Linked DNA regions of Homo sapiens: region 2 is linked to region 1. Evidence: fine-mapped expression QTL. A gene starts in region 1. The other region holds a variant in brackets. All regions are shown on one strand. Distances are from middle to middle. Region 1 holds the start of ZNF584 (zinc finger protein 584). Region 2 overlaps SLC27A5 (solute carrier family 27 member 5).

Evidence for each region. PIP is the estimated chance that this variant, and not a neighbour inherited with it, causes the effect.
Region 2: its variant is the best candidate, but not a certain one, in a credible set for the expression of ZNF584 in fibroblasts (GTEx, PIP 0.56).

What each region holds. Positions count from the first base shown.
Region 1 is chr19:58,403,702-58,412,029 of GRCh38, forward strand. It overlaps ZNF584 (zinc finger protein 584), which reads left to right and starts at 4,948. Exons shown (of 4, transcript NM_173548.3): 1 at 4,948-5,464; 2 at 6,240-6,390. The coding sequence starts at 5,447. ZNF584-DT (ZNF584 divergent transcript) reads right to left here and starts at 4,762. Exons shown (of 1, transcript NR_186337.1): 1 at 1-4,762. RefSeq lists enhancers at 4,107-4,156, 4,135-4,780, 4,707-4,756 and a silencer at 5,017-5,076.
Region 2 is chr19:58,501,573-58,509,900 of GRCh38, forward strand. SLC27A5 (solute carrier family 27 member 5) reads right to left here. Exons shown (of 10, transcript NM_012254.3): 3 at 8,275-8,328. It overlaps LOC105372485 (a long non-coding RNA gene), which reads left to right. Exons shown (of 2, transcript XR_001754024.2): 2 at 8,212-8,328. Among named protein-coding and RNA genes, the nearest start is that of SLC27A5, 6.3 kb to the right of the region's middle. RefSeq lists a silencer at 5,028-5,241. The variant C/G (reference allele first, on the strand shown) is at 4,478.

The DNA of each region.
Region 1 (8,328 bases):
AGCTCATGCCTGTAATCCCAGCATTTTGGGAGGCTGAGCGGGGCGGATCACGAGGTCAGGAGATGGAGACCATCCTGGCCAAAATGGTGAAACCCCAACTCTACTAAAAATACAAAAATTAGCCGGGTGTGGTGGCACGCGCTTGTCGTCCCAGCTATTCGTGAGGCTGAGACAGAATTGCTTGAACCCGGGAGGCGGAGGTTACTGTGAGATCGTGGCACTGCACTCCAGCCTGGGTGTCAGAGCAACTCCGTCTCAAAAAAAAAAAAAAAAAAGAAGAAACTAAAATGAGGTCCAATGAAGTAGTGCCAGGAAAAACATAAATGAACTAACTATTAAGCCCAGGAAAGGTAAGTGGTTAAGAGAGAACTTTGGTCTGAGACTTCCTGGAATCAAACTGTAGCACTGCCTCCCACTGGCTTTATGACTCAGGGCAAATACTTAGCCTATGGGAGACTCAGGCCCTGGACCCTCTACTCCTCTGCTCCACCCGTGGGAGAGATCAGGCCCATCTCACAGAGGAACAGATTTTTTTTTTTTCTTTTTTTTTTATTGATCATTCTTGGGTGTTTCTCGTAGAGGGGGATTTGGCAGGGTCACAGGACAATAGGGGAGGGAAGGTCAGCAGATAAACAAGTGAACAAAGGTCTCTGGTTTTCCTAGGCAGAGGACCCTGCGGCCTTCCGCAGTGTTTGTGTCCCTGGGTACTTGAGATTAGGGAGTGGTGATGACTCTTAAGGAGCATGCTGCCTTCAAGCATCTGTTTAACAAAGCACATCTTGCACCGCCCTTAATCCATTCAACCCTGAGTGGATACAGCACATGTTTCAGAGAGCACAGGGTTGGGGGTAAGGTCACAGATCAACAGGATCCCAAGGCAGAAGAATTTTTCTTAGTACAGAACAAAATGAAAAGTCTCCCACGTCTACCTCTTTCTACACAGACACGGCAACCATCCGATTTCTCAATCTTTTCCCCATCTTTCCCCCCTTTCTATTCCACAAAACCGCCATTGTCATCATGGCCCGTTCTCAACGAGCTGTTGGGTACACCTCCCAGATGGGGTGGTGGCCGGGCAGAGGGGCTCCTCATTTCCCAGTAGGGGCGGCCGGGCAGAGGCGCCCCTCACCTCCCGGACAGGGCGGCTCGCCAGGCGGGGGGCTGACCCCCCCCCCCACCTCCCTCCTGGACGGGGCGGCTGGCCAGGCAGAGGGGCTCCTCACTTCCCAGTAGGGGCGGCCGGGCAGAGGCGCCCCTCACCTCCCGGACGGGGTGGCTGGCCAGGCGGGGGGCTGACCCCCCCACCTCCCTCCCGGACAGGGCGGCTGGCAGGGCGGGGGGCTGACCCCCCCACCTCCCTCCCAGATGGGGCGGCTGGCCGGGCAGAGGGGCTCCTCACTTCCCAGTAGGGGCGGCCGGGCAGAGGCGCCCCGCACCTCCCGGACGGGGCGGCTGGCCGGGCAGGGGGCTGACCCCCCCACCTCCCTCCCGGACGGGTCGGCTGGCCGCGCGGGGGGCTGACCCCCCCACCTCCCTTCCGGACAGGGCGGCTGGCCGGGCGGGGGGCTGACCCCCCCACCTCCCTCCCGGACGGAGCGGCTGGCCGGGCAGAAGGGCTCCTCACTTCCCAGTAGGGGCGGCCGGGCAGAGGCGCCCCTCATCTCCCGGACAGGGCGGCTGGCCGGGTGGGGGACTGATCCCCCCACCTCCCTCCCGGACGGGGCGGCTGGCCGGGCGGGGGGCTGACCCCCCCACCTCCCTCCCGGACGAGGTGGCTGCTGGGCGGAGAGGCTCCTCACTTCTCAGACGGGGCGGCTGCCGGGCGGAGATGCTCCTCACTTCCCAGACGGGGTGGCTGCTGGGCGGAGGGGCTCCTCACTTCTCAGACGGGGCGGCTGCCGGGCGGAGGGGCTCCTCACTTCTCAGACGGGGCAGTTGCCAGGCAGAGGGTCTCCTCACTTCTCAGACGGGGCGGCCGGGCAGAGACGCTCCTCACATCCCGGACGGGGCGGCAGGGCAGAGATGCTCCCCACATCTCAGACGATGGGCGGCCGGGCAGAGACGCTCCTCACTTCCCAGATGTGATGGCGGCCGGGAAGAGGCGCTCCTCACTTCCTAGATGGGATGGCGGCCGGGCAGAGACGCTCCTCACTTTCCAGACTGGGCAGCCAGGCAGAGGGGCTCCTCACATCCCAGATGATGGGCGGCCAGGCGGAGACGCTCCTCACTTCCCAGACGGGGTGGCCGCCGGGCAGAGGCTGCAATCTCGGCACTTTGGGAGGCCAAGGCGGGTTGCTGGGAGGTGGAGGTTGTAGCGAGCCGAGATCACGCCACTGCACTCCAGCCTGGACACCATTGAGCACTGAATGAACGAGACTCCGTCTGCAATCCCGGCACCTCGGGAGGCCGAGGCTGGCGGATCACTCGTGGTTAGGAGCTGGAGACCAGCCCGGCCAACACAGCGAAACCCCGTCTCCACCAAAAAAAATACGAAAACCAGTCAGGCGTGGCGGCACGCGCCTGCAATCGCAGGCACTCGGCAGGCTGAGGCAAGAGAATCAGGCAGGGAGGTTGCAGTGAGCCGAGATGGCAGCAGTACCGTCCAGCTTCGGCTCGGCATCAGAGGGAGACCGTGGAAAGAGCGGGGGGGGGGGGAGGGGGAGGGGGAGGAGGGAAGAGGAACAGATTTTCAAGAACGATTTGAGGATATGTATTAGCCCAGGACATGTTATGGGATGACCAGTGTCTTCAAACTAGGCAGAAAGAGGGGACAGGGTACAGGAGTCAGGGGAAGTAGGCGAAAAGGTGGACTGTTTAGTAGGGGATCAGGAACATAGAAAAGTGGCAAGGCTAGTGACCTTGGTACCCAGACACCAGGGGTATAACTCAGGTACCAGGTGTGAGAACAGCTCAATTCCAGGGATACTTCCATCCCCAGCTTGCAATCTCCATGGCTGAGCCTCTTTGATAACTTTTGTGCTATTCCTGGTTTCAAGTCTACCTGGTCCATCAATCAGTGCTCTTGTCTGCACTCCAGTTGGGGGAACTCATGAACTGTAAAGGGCAATCCTGTGGGGGAATGAACAGGTTGGTCAGTCCAGCCTAGGGCAGACTGACCCACCATGACAGTCCAGGGGTACTGATGACAGGCATGTACCATGAGCTTGGGGGTGTCCCACCTGTGTCTCCACTGGAGAGAATACACAGGTGTCACTGAGGAACAGGGTTGCAAGGACTGAGGATATGGGGTCAGCTGAGGACATGTTAAGGAGAGGCAAACATTGCACAGCTAGGCACTAAGGAGAGAGAAAGGGACACAGCGGGGCATGGCCAGAAAACTGGAATTGAGCTGAGTGGAGGCACCAAGACCTGCGAGGGCACAGGCTGGGCACCAGGTGTGAGAACAGCCCACTCCTGGGGGCATTCACCAGGGGTAGATCTCTTCAGGGTCCCTCTGCCACAACTAGTTTTGAGTTCATATGGTCCACCTGCTGGTGGGAATGTAGAAGCCTTCAGACCTATGAAGGATGATGAGTTTTTGAGAGTCCAGGCCAGGAGAGGCCAAAACACCATGACCCCAGCAAGCGAGAATAATCCTTACTCCAAGACAAACACAGACCTGCAAAAAATGAACATTCAGGGAAGGCTCCCAGGCAGGACCCAGTGGGCCCACACGCACCCATGTCAGTGCATGCAGTGCCTGGAATCTTACAGGAAGTGACCGAGCTGAACGTGACCAGCTGTGAAGATTCAGAGACTTCTGAGCCCCGATCTTGGCCACTCACGGCCCTTGGGTAGAATGTGTGGGGTGTCCACTCAGCCACTTGTTAGAGGAGGTGGCATGATCTGGGCCTCAGTGCCACGACCAACAGCGACTTCCAAGGGGAACATGGAAAGAACAGAGGAAAAAAACCAGAGTTGAGGCTGGGGAGAGTTATGGTGCCAGTGGTCTCACCCAGCACTGAGTGCAAAGTTCTCCAGCACCACTTCAGGTAGAAGCTCCTCTGGACCTTGCCTAAGAACTCCGTTCGTCCGGGAGGACGCAGGCCCACCTGCTCTAACATGAACGCGTCTGAATTCAGCGGAGGACACCCAGGAGCCCGGTTATTCTCCTGCCAGCGTCCTCCCCTGATGTGTCCCTGACCCCGTGCTCTGACGTACTCAGCCATGTACTCACTCTCCTCTCCCAGGCCCCCATACCTGAGATCACCATGGCCTGATATGGGGTAGACTACAAGCCTACCGTGCCTCAGCCATGTGCAGGGCGACCTGTCCCTGGCATCCACACCTGTGGCCCATACGTCGCCCGCATTGTGGGGCGCCGAAAACCCAACACAACTGAAACACAACTGCTGACCTTCCCCCTAAGCCGCCTCTAAACGAGGTCCCTCGGCCCCTGGTCCCAGCCGCTCTTTGAAGACTTGCCTGATGACAGGCATGTACCATGTTTTTGGCTGGGACATTTTTCTGAGCCTTGCTCCGGGCTCCGTAAAGCGGACACGGTGCCAGGGAGAGAATTTCGGGGCGGTTGCGGGCACAGGCGGGCTTCTGCGGAGGCCCTGGCGAACGCCCCCGCGCGGCGCGGTCCGATGGCCCCATGGGGCCGCCCCTCCACTGTGAGGTCACCGGGGTTCAGCAACATTCACTGCGGCTAGGACGCGTACAGGTCACTGAGGCAGAACTTCCCGATTCTCGCGCCTTCGTTCGTTTCTGCGGACCAGCGGAGACTCCTCCACACCGCCCACCGCCCAATGATCCCACTGCCGCAAACCGCCCCAAAGCCAGCGCCGAAAGCCGACGCCGGAAGCCCCGCCCCACGCAGGGCCCGCCCGAACGTTCCCGTTCCTGGGCCGCCATTGGCCAAGTCTGAACGGCCCCACGTCGAGGCTCCTTATGGGAAATGTAGTTCACGTCCCGCTTCAGGAGCTAGCGGCGCCCTCCCTTATCGCCTTGGCAACGACCCAGCCGCGCCGCGAGGAGAGCCGGGAATGGAGGTCGTGGCGTGAGGGGCGCCGAGCGAGGGGAGGCGCGGGCCACGGGAGTTCCGGGAGTTCCGGCGTTGCCCGGCAGTCCGCAGTCCTCGGCGGGAAGGCTGTCCCGGCGCCTCAGGCAGCTCTGCGTGGGCCGGGGTGACTTCCTCGCGATCCCCTGCGCGAGGTGAAGGGCAGGGACCTTTGCCGCGCCTTCCACGCGCCGTGCCCCACCGGCGAGTGGCTCCATCTTCCTCAGACTTATCGCTCGCGGACAGGCGCCGTGGGTCTCCCGGGCCTCCGTACCGTCCTCCTTCCCAGCGGCTCCGGGAAGCGGTTCCCTGTCTTCGGACGCATTTCACCCGCGCGGGGAGAGCTTCCCGGGAAGGTTCCACGGCGGCCGAGGGTTTCCGCGCCCGGGACGCGTTTCGGCTGAGGCCGTGGGTCCAGTCCACGGGTTCTGCCCGCACGGTCCAATGGCCGGGGAGGCGGAGGTGAGCAGAGGATGCCTCCGAGGAATGAGGGGGCCCACCAGGTGGGGGGCGGCGTGTGCCAGGGCAGAGTTGGAGGAGGGCAGGAGATCTGCGTATGATTCCAGGGGGAGGTCTTTGATGCACGGCTGGGGCATGCCCTTGGCAGTGGGAGCCATTGGAGATGTGCCGCAGGACTGGGACAGGATGGGGTCGTAGTTGCTGTGCCAGGCCCTCTGGAGACGCATGTGCAGAACGGCGTGTGGAAGGCCAGGCAATTGCCTATAGGGTAAACTGGGGACGTTGTGCTGGGGGTGTACAGTTTTAGGCATTCTGTTGTCCAGTTTTGTGCCTGTTGAGCAGGAGGCAAACTGGACCCTGGGACCAGGTACTTGAGACCTAAGGGAGAAGGATGAGCATAGGTTTGGTTGCGTCTGAGAGGTATGATCTCTGGGACTGGAATTGGCAGGCAGGAGATAGAGTGGAGCCTGTGCCCTTGGCCCTGCACATAGATGGCATCAGTCTGGTCACCAACCTGATGTCGCTTTGGGCTGGACACAGTTTCCAGTAGTAACACCAGAAGCATCAATAACACCAGCAGCTCTGATATTCCTCTGGGATAGGAGAAGGAAGGTATAAGGGTATGTGTAGGGAGTAAGGTGGGGAAGAGTTTAGAGCTCATAGGGAAAGATAATGTCAGGGGGAGATGTGATAGGACCCTGAGATACAGGTCAAGGGCCTGAATGTGTCCATCTGTCCATATTTTGGTTGTTTTTTTCTGCCCATCATTGACCCCAAGGCTCAGTTGGACCCATCATTGCAGGGCTTGGTGATGTTTGAGGATGTGACGGTATATTTCTCCAGGGAGGAGTGGGGGCTCCTTAATGTGACCCAGAAGGGCCTATACCGGGATGTGATGCTGGAGAACTTTGCACTCGTTAGCTCACTGGGTAAGTCTCTTACACTGTCCCCCAGCACACTGACTACCCCCTCATTTTCCCCATGCGAAGTTCTGTCCATAACGAAGCCAGACCATGGGGGCTCTTTCCTTCCCAGATTCCCTGTTGTAGGTATTGTGGGTGGTGGGACTCGGTGGTGGGACTCGGCGGTGTGCTCTTTCCCTGCCTTTCTCTGAGCAATGCTGTTGGCAGCCTCAACACCTCTTGCCCCAGGAGCTAGTGGAGCAGGTTTTGGGGGTCAGATGTTTCATAGTTTGCCCACCAAATCCCACCAAGCTCTGCCTTTTCCTGGCCATGTGACTCTCTTGAAGACATGGCTTCTCTGTGCTCTGGGTTTTGCCTCCCTACAAAAGAAATTTTACAGGGACCTCCCTGGGCCAGGCTTGAGCCATGAATTTTAATCAGAACGGTTTGGGAAATATATATATATATATATATATATATATATATATATATATGTGTATATATATATGTATATATATGTATATATATGTATATATATGTATATATATGTGTATATATGTGTATATATGTGTATATATATGTGTATATATGTGTATATATGTATATATGTGTATATATATGTATATATGTATATATATATGTATATATGTGTATATATATATGTATATATATATATGTGTGTATATATATATATATATGTATATATATATATAATTTTTTTTTTTTTTTTTTTTTTTTTTTTTTTGAGACAGAGCCTCACTCTGTTGCCCAGGCTGGAGTGCAGTGGCGCAATCTCGGCTCACCACAACCTCTGCCTCCAGGGTTCAAGCGATTCTCCTGCCTCAGTCTCCCGAGTAGCTGGGACTACAGGCTCGCGCCACCATGCCTGGCTAATTTTTGTATTTTTAGTAGAGACAGGGTTTCACTTTGTTGGCCAGGCTGGTCTTGAACTCCGGACCTCATGATCTGCCTGCCTTGGCCTCTCAAAGTGCTGGGATTACAGGCGTGAGCCACTGCGCCTGGCCACAAAGGTACTTCTTTCGTTAAATTTATTCCTAAGTACTTTATTCTTCACTGTTAAGTATGGTGTTAGCTGTTGGTTTTTTGCAGATGCCCATTTCAGGTGAGGAAGTTCCCTTCTCTTTCTAGTTCATTTAATGTGTTTATTAAGAAAAGTCATGGCCAGGTGCAGTGGCTCATGCCTGTAATTTCAGCATTTTGGGAGGGCGAGGCAGGTGGATTACCTGAGGTCAGGAGTTCAAGACCAGCGTGGTCAACATGGTGAAACCCCATCTCTACTAAAAATAGAAAACTAGCCAGGTGTGGTGGCACATGCCTGTAATCCCAGCTACTAGGGAAGCTGAGGCAGGAGAATCGCTTGAACCTGGGAGGTGGAGGTTGCAGTGAGCTGAGATCGCACCATTGCACTCCAGCCTGGGCAACAAGAGTGAAACTACGTCTCAAAAAAAAAAAAGAAAAGAAAGGTCACTAGATTTTGTCAAATGCTTTTCCAATGTCTAATGAAATGATCATGTGATTTTTGTCCTCTCTTCTGTTAATGTAGTATATTAGAATAATTGATTGCCTTTTCTTTTTTTGAGACGGAGTCTTGTTCTGTCGCCAGGCTGGAGTGCAGTGGCGCGATCTCGGCTCACTGCAACCTCCACCTCCCGGGTTCAAGTGATTTTCCTGCCTCAGCCTCCCAAGTAGCTGGGACTATAGGCGTGCACCACCACGCCCAGCTAATTTTTGTATTTTTCGTAGAGATGGGGTTTCACCATGTTTGCAAGGATGGTCTTGATCTCTTGACCTCGTGATCTGCCCCCGTCGGCCTCCCAACACTAATTGTTGATTTTCATATGTTCAACCTTGCATTACTGGGATAAATTCCCTGTCATGGCTTATAATACTTGTTTTTTTTTTTTTTTTTTTTTTTAGACAGAGTCTTACTCTGTCGCCCAGGCT
Region 2 (8,328 bases), 98 kb after region 1:
GCATAGGCAGGCCTGGGTTCAAATCCTGTCTCCAGGATGCCGGGAAAGCTCCGTGCCTGTTATAAAGTGAGCAATGCTAAATAAGGGCTGTAAATATTAAATTTTTTATTTTTATTTTTGAGACGGAGTCTCGCTCTGTTGCCCAGGCTGGAGTGCAGTGGTGCAATCTCCGCTCACTGCAACCTCTCCCTCCCGGGTTCAAGCGATTCTCCTGCCTCAGCTTTCTGAGTTGCTGGGATTACAAGCACCCGCCACCACAGCTGGCTAATTTTTGTACTTTTTTAAGTACAGACGGGGTTTCACCATGTTGGCCAGGCTGGTCTTGAACTCCTGACCTTTCAGGTGATCCACCCGCCTCGGCCTCCAAAGTGCTGTGATTACAGGCATGAGCCTCTGTGCCCAGCCACATTTTTAATTTTTATTTTGGCTTGTCACTGACTCGAAGCTCAAATCACTCTTGATTACGATAAATGAATGCCCAGCTAAGCAGATGGGTGGGCAGGTGGATGGATATGGTGGATGGATGGAAAGATGAATGGATGGACAGTTAGAGTAGTGAGTGAGTAGATGGGTGGGTGGACAGAGTAGTGAGTGAGTAGATGGATGGGTGAACAGTTAGAGTAGTGAGTGAGTAGATGGATGGGTGGACAGTTAGAGTAGTGAGTGAGTAGATGGATGGGTGACAGAGTAGTGAGTGAGTAGATGGATGGGTGAACAGTTAGAGTAGTGAGTGAGAAGATGGATGGGTGAACAGTTAGAGTAGTGAGTGAGTGGATGGATGGGTGGACAGTTAGAGTAGTGAGTGAGTAGATGGATGGGTGGACAGAGTAGTGAGTGAGAAGATGGATGTGTGGACAGTTAGAGTAGTGAGTGAGAAGATGGATGGGTGAACAGAGTAGTGAGTGAGTAGATGGATGGGTGAACAGTTACAGTAGTGAGTGAGAAGATGGATGGGTGAACAGTTAGAGTAGTGAGTGAGTGGATGGATGGGTGGACAGTTAGAGTAGTGAGTGAGTAGATGGATGGGTGGACAGAGTAGTGAGTGAGAAGATGGATGTGTGGACAGAGTAGTGAGTGAGAAGATGGATGGGTGAACAGTTAGAGTAGTGAGTGAGTAGATGGATGGGTGGACAGTTAGAGTAGTGAGTGAGTAGATGGATGGGTGGACAGTTAGAGTAGTGAGTGAGTAGATGGATGGGTGGACAGTTAGAGTAGTGAGTGAGTAGATGGATGGCTGGACAGTTAGAGTAGTGAGTGAGTAGATGGATGGGTGGACAGTTAGAGTAGTGAGTGAGTAGATGGATGGCTGGACAGTGACATGCAGAGGCAGGGGGGTAGAAAGATGGATAGGTGGCTGGGTGAGGATCGTCACGCCTGTAATCCCAGGACTTAGGGAGGCCGAGGTGGGCGGATCACGAGGTCAGGAGATCAAGACCATCCTGGCTAACACGGTGAAACCCGTCTCTACTGAAAATACAAAAAATTAGCTGGGCGTGGTAGCGGGCGCCTGTAGTCCCAGCTACTCGGGAGGCTGAGGCAGGAGAATGGCGTGAACCTGGGAGGCGGAGCTTGCAGTGAGCCGAGATAGCGCCACTGCACTCCAGCCTGGGCGACAGAGTGAGACTCTGTCTTAAAAAAAAAAAAAAAGAAAAAGAGAAAGATGGATAGGTGTAAGGATGGATAGATGGGTGGGTGGATGAATGAATGAATGAGTGAGGAAGTAGGTGAGTAGGTAGATGGGTGGGTTGGTGAATGTTTGTATGGTTGTATTGACGTATGGACACATGGATTAATAAGATATAGGGGGCTGGGCGTGGTGGCTCACACCTGTTATCCCAACACTTTGGGAGGCTGAGGGGGGTGGATCACCTGAAAGATCAGGAGTTTGAGACCAGCCTAGCCAACATGGTGAAACCCTATCTCTACCAAAAAATGCAAAAATTAGCCAGGCGTGGTGGCGCACACCTGTAGTCCCAGCTACTCGGGAGGCTGAGGTGGAAGAATCGCTTGAACCCAGGAGGGGGAGGCTGTAGTGAGCCGAGCTTACACCACTGCACTCCAGCCTGGGTGACAGAGTGAGACCCTGTCTCAAAAGAAAAAGAAAAAAACTGAATCTAACAACACCTCTAGTTAAAGTTTCCAATTTAACAAGAAATGCAGATGAAAGGGGAACAGAGACCTACAAGCAAATACAATGGGGAGACTGTTTAATTGTTAAAAACAAACAAACAAACAAACAAACAAAAAAACAGCCAATTGGCTGGGCACAGTAGCTCACACCTGTAATCTCAGCACTTTGGGAGGCCAACGTGTTCAGATCACTTGAGGCCAGAAGTTCAAGACCAGACTGGCCAACAGGGCGAAACCCTGTCTTTACTAAAAATACAAAAAAATTAGCTGGGCATGGTGGTCCACACCTGTAATCACAACTGCTCAGGAGGATGAGGCATGAGAATCGTTTGAACCCAGGAGGCAGAGGTTGTAGTGAGCCAACATCACACAACTGTACTCCAGCCTGGGTGACAAAGCAAGACTCTGTCTCTAAAAACAAAACCAAACCAAAACAGCCCATTGGAGAAATCTGAACATAGACTGGACATCATATGATATTAAGGGGTTACATCATATGATATTAAGGACATCATATGATATTAATGTTGTTACGTGTAATAATCACTTTGGTTACAGTTTCTTCAGTGCTTATATGTTAGAGATATGTACTGCAATATTTACAAGCATAAAGATGCAGTGTCTAGGATTTGCTCTGATATATTCTGGAAAAAAATAGGGAAGTGGCTGGGCACGGTGGCTCACGCCTGTAATCCCAGCACTTTGGGAGGCCGAGGCAGGTGGATCACCTGAGGTCAGGAGTTTGAGACCAGCCTGGCCAACATGGCGAAACCCTGTCTCTACTAAAAATACAAAAATTAGCCGCTTGTGGCGGTGCGTGCCTGTAATCCCAGCTATTCAGGAGGCTGAGGCAGAAAACTGATTGAACCCTGGGGGGGGGGGGGGGGCGGGCGGGGCGGAGCTTGCGGTGACCCAAGATGGTGCCACTGCACTCCAGCCTGGGCGACAGAGCGAGACTCTGTCTCAAAAACAAACAAACAAACAAAAAAGAAACAGGGAAGTACATGTGAAATTAAACTGGCCCTGGGCGCGGTGGCTCATGCCTGTAATCCCAGCACTTTGGGAGGCCGAGGCGGGCGGATCACGAGGTCAGGAGATTGAGACCATCCTGGTGAACACCGTGAAACCCTGTCTCTACTAAAAATACAAAAAAAATAGCCAGGCGTGGTGGCGGTCACTTGTAGTCCCAGCTACTCCGGAGACTTAGGCAGGAGAATGGCATGAACCCAGGAGGCGGAGCTTGCCGTGAGCAGAGATTGCGCCACTGCACTCCAGCCTGGGCGACAGAGCGAGACTCCATCTCAAAGAAAAAAAAAAAAAGAAATTAAACTGGCAGCATGTTAACAATTATTGAAGCTGGGTGAAGATACCTGAGATGTCATCAAACTATTTTCACTTTTTTTTTTTTTTTTTTTTGAGACAGAGTCTCGCTTTTTGCACAGGCTGGAATGCAATGGCTAGATCTCGGCTCACTGCAACCCCTGCGCCCCGGGTTCAAGCGATTCTCCTGCCTCAGCCTCCCTGGTAGCTGGAAATACAGGCGCCCACCACCATACCCAGCTAATTTTGTATTTTCAGTAGAGACAGGGTTTCACCATGTTGGCCAGGCTGGTCTCAAACTCCTGACTTCAGGTGTTCCGCCGGCCTCAGCCTCCCAAAGTGCTGGGATTACAGGCGTGAGCCACCATGCCCCGGTAATTTTTGTATTTTAGGTAGAGACGGATTTTGCCATGTTAGCCAGGCTGATCTTGAACTCCTGACCTCAGGTGATCCACCAGACTCATCCTCCCAAAGTGCTGGGATTACAGGCGTAAACCACTGGGCACAGCCTAAACTTTTCATAATTAAAAAAACAATTTGGCCGGGCGCAGTGGCTCACGCCTGTAATCCCAGCACTTTGCGAGGCTGAGGTGGGCGGATCACCTGAGGTCGGGAGTTTGAGACAAGCCTGACCAACATGGAGAAACCCCATCTCTACTAAAAACATAAAAAAAAATTAGCCGGTCGTGAGGGCACATGCCTGTAATCCCAGCTACTTGGGATGCTGAGGCAGGAGAATCGCTTGAACCCAGGAGGCAGAGGTTGCAGTGAGCCGACATCGCGCCATTGCATTCCATCCTGGGCAACAATAGTGAAACCCCGACTCAAAAAAAAAAAAAAAAACATTTGGCCGGGCACGGTAGTTCACACCTGTAATCCCAGCACTTTGGGAGGCCGAGGCGGGCGGATCACGAGGTCAGGAGTTCGAGACCAGCCTGGCCAACATGGTTAAACCCTGTCTCTACTAAAAATACAAAAGTTAGCCAGGCACGGTGGTGGGAGCCTGTAATAACAGCTACTAGGGAGG[C/G]TGAGGCAGGAGAATCGCTCACAAGTGCTCACCACCATGCCTGGCTTTTTTTTTTTTTTAACAGATGGACTCTCACTATGTTGCCCAGGCTGGTGTTGAACTCCTGGGCTCAAGTGATCCTCCTGCCTTGGTACCCCAAAGTGCAGGGATTATAGGCATGAGGAACCACACCTGGCCATGATAAAAGTTTGAAAACAAACAGACGCCAGGCGCGGTGGTTCACGCCTGTAATCCCAGCACTTTGGGAGGCCGAGGTAGGTGGATCACCTGAGGTCAGGAGTTCGAGACCAGCCTGGCCAACATGGCAAAACCCCGTCTCTACTAAGAATACAAACATTAGCCAGGTGTGGAGGCGCATGCCTGTAATCCCAGCTACTCAGGAGGCTCAGCCTCAGCAGAGAATTGCTTGAACCCGGGAGGCAGAGGTTGTGGTGATCTGAGATGGTGCCACTGCACTCCAGCCTGGGTGACAGAGCGAGACTGTGTCTCAAAAACAAACAAAAAAGAAACAGAGAAGTATATGCGAAATTAAACTGGCAACATGTTAACAATTATTGATGCTGGGCGAAGATACATGAGATGTCATCAAACTATTTTCACTTTTTTTTTTTTTTTGCAAGGGAGTTTCACTCTTTTTGCAACCCCCGCCTCCCAGGTTGAAGCGATTTTCCTGCCTCAGCCTCCCGAGTAGCTGGAAACACAGGCTCGCATCACCACGCCCAGCTAATTTTGTATTTTCAGTACAGACAGGGTTTTACCATGTTGGCCAGGCTGGTCTCAAACTCCTGATTTCAGGTGATCCAGTGGCCTCAGCTTCCCAAAGTGCTGGGATTACAGGCGTGAGCCACCATGACTGGCTAATTTTTGTATTTTAAGTAGAGACAGATTTCACTATGTTGACCAGGCTTGTCTTGAACTCCTGACCTCAGGTGATCCACCCGCCTCAGCCTCCCAAAGTGCTGGGATTACAGGCGTGAACCACCGGGCACAGCTAAACTTTTCATAATTAAAAAAAAAAGAAAAATTTGGCCGGGCGCGGTGGCTCATGCCTGTAATCCCAGCACTTTGGGAGGCTGAGGTGGGTGGATCATGAGGTCAGGTGTTGGAGACCAGCCTGGCCAACATGGTGAGACCCCACCTATACTAAAAATTCAAAAATTAGCCGGGCATAGTGGTGGGCACCTGTAATAACAGCTACTCGGGATGCTGAGGCAGAAGAATCGCTCACAAGTGCTCACCACTGTTGCGGGAAGTCAGGGACCCCTAACAGACGGACCGGCTGGAGCCACGGCAGAGGAACATAAATTGTGAAGATAACATGGACATTTATCACTTCCCAAATAATACTCTTATAATTTCTTACGCCTGTCTTACTTTCATCTCTTAATCCTGTTATCTTCATAAGCTGAGGATGTACGTCACCTCAGGACCCTGTGATAATTGTGTTAACTGTACAAATTGATTGTAAAATGTGTGTTTGAACAATGTGAAATCAGCGCACATTGAAAAAGAACAGAATGAGAGTGATTTTAGGGAACAAGGGAAGACAACCCTAAGGTCTGACTGCCTGCGGGGCTGGGCAAAAAGAGCCATATTTTTCTTCTTGCAGAGAGCCTATAAGTGGACGTGCAAGTAGGAGAGATATTGCTAAATTATTTTCCTAGCAAGGAATATTAACATTAAGACCCTGGGAAAGGAATTCATTCCTGGGGGGAGGTCTATAAATGGCCGCTCTGGGAATGTCTGTCCTATGCAGTTGAGATAAGGACTGAGATGCACCCTGGTCTCCTGCAGTACCCTCAGGCTTACTAGGGTGGGGAAAAACCCCGCCCTGGTAAATTTGAGGTCAGACCAGTTCTCTGCTCTTGAACCCTGTTTTCTGTTGTTTAAGATGTTTATCAAGACAATATGTGCACCACTGAACATAGACCCTTATCAGTTCTGCTTTTGCCCTTTGCCTTGTGATCTTTGTTGGACCCTGATCAGTAGTTCCGTTTTTTGCCCTTTGAAGCATGTGATCTTTGTACCTATTCTCGGTTCTTACACCCCCTTCCCTTCTGAAATCCTTAATAAAACTTGCTGGCTTTGAGCTCAGGTGGGCATCATGGTCCTACCGATATGTGATGTCACCCCCGGAGGCCCAGCTGTCAAATTCCTCTCTTTGTACTCTTTCTCTTTATTTCTCAGCTGGCCAGCACTTACGGAAAATAGAAAGAACCTACATCGAGGCCGGGCACAGTGGCTCACACCTGTAATCCCAGCACTTTGGGAGGCCGAGGTGGGAGGATCATGAGGTCAGGAGATTGAGACCATCCTGGCTAAATGTGAAACCCCATCTCTACTAAAAATACAAAAAATTAGCCGGGCGCGGTGGCAGGCGCCTGTAGTCCCAGCTACTGGGGAGGCTGAGGCAGGAGAATGGCATGAACCCAGGAGGCAGAGCTTGCAGTGAGCTGAGATCGCACCACTGCACTCCAGCCTGGGCGACAGAGCGAGACTCCATCTCAAAAAAAAAAAAAAAAAGAACCTACATTGAAATATTAGGGGCAGGTTCCCCCGATACCACCATGCGTGGCTTTTTAAAATTTTTTTTTAACAGATGGCCTCTTACTATGTTGCCCACGCTGGTGTTGAACTCCTGGACTCAAGTGATCCTCCTGCCTTGGCACCCAAAGTGCAGGGATTATAGGCATGAGCAACCACACATGGCCATGATAATAGCTGGAAAACACAAAAAGGCCGGGCGTGGTGGGTCACACCTGTAATCCCAGCGCTTTGGGAGGCAAATGCCCGCAAATGTGGGCAGATCACAAGGTCAGGAGTTTGAGACCAGCCTGACCAACATGGTGAAACCTAGTCTCTAGTAAAAATACAAAAATTAGCTGGGCGTGGTGGTGCGTGCCTGTAATCCCAGCTACTCAGGAGGCTGAGGCAGGAAAATCGCTTGAACCTGGAAGGCGGAGCTTGCAGTGAGCCGAGATCATGCCACCGCACTCCAGCCTGGGCGACAGAGCGAGACTCTGTCTCAAAAAAAAAAAGAGAGAGAGAGAGAAAATAGCCAGGTGCGGTGGCTCACACCTGTAATCTCAGCACTTTGGGAGGCCAAGGCAGGTGGATCACGAGGTCAGGAGTTCAAGACCAGCCTGGCCAAGATGGTGAAATCCCGTCTCTACTAAAACTACAAAAATTAGCCGGGCGTGGTGGTGGGCGCCTGTAATCCCAGTTACTCAGGAGGATGAGGCAGGAGAATTGCTTGAACCCAGGAGGCAGAGGTTGCAGTGAGCCAAGATCATGCCTCTGCACTCCAGCCTGGGTGACAAAGCAAGACTCTGTCTCGAAAAAAAATAAATAAATAAAAATTAAAATAAAAAAAAAAGAGAGAAAACAAAAAGAACAAGCTATGGAGAGGTCCCCATCTAGACTCTGAATCAAGAGTCCAGAGAGACAGCCCTGTGGAGTGCTTGAGAGCACTCCTACTCCAGCTGCCCTTGGGGCCATGTCACAAATCTGGGCCAGCATCCCCATCATCTCCTGAGCACCACACCTTCCTTGGATGCCTGTGACCATCACTCGTATCAGGTCTTGTCACCTCCTGACCAAAGCATGGCCATCAGGGACTGTGTGGGTGTCCAAGCTTCTGTCCATGCGGCCCTGGTAGTCATTGGTGGGTGTCCCTTCTCAAAAGTGAGAACACAGGGTGCTGGGTAACCTATGGTGTCTTTTTGCCTTGACAGCCCCACGCCGACACTTACTCCCGTGGTCCTGTAGACTGGAGGGATCCTCAGAAGTGGGCTTACCGAGATCTAAGCAGCCGAGGATCCCAACGACAAGTCCCATCACGTGGTACAGAG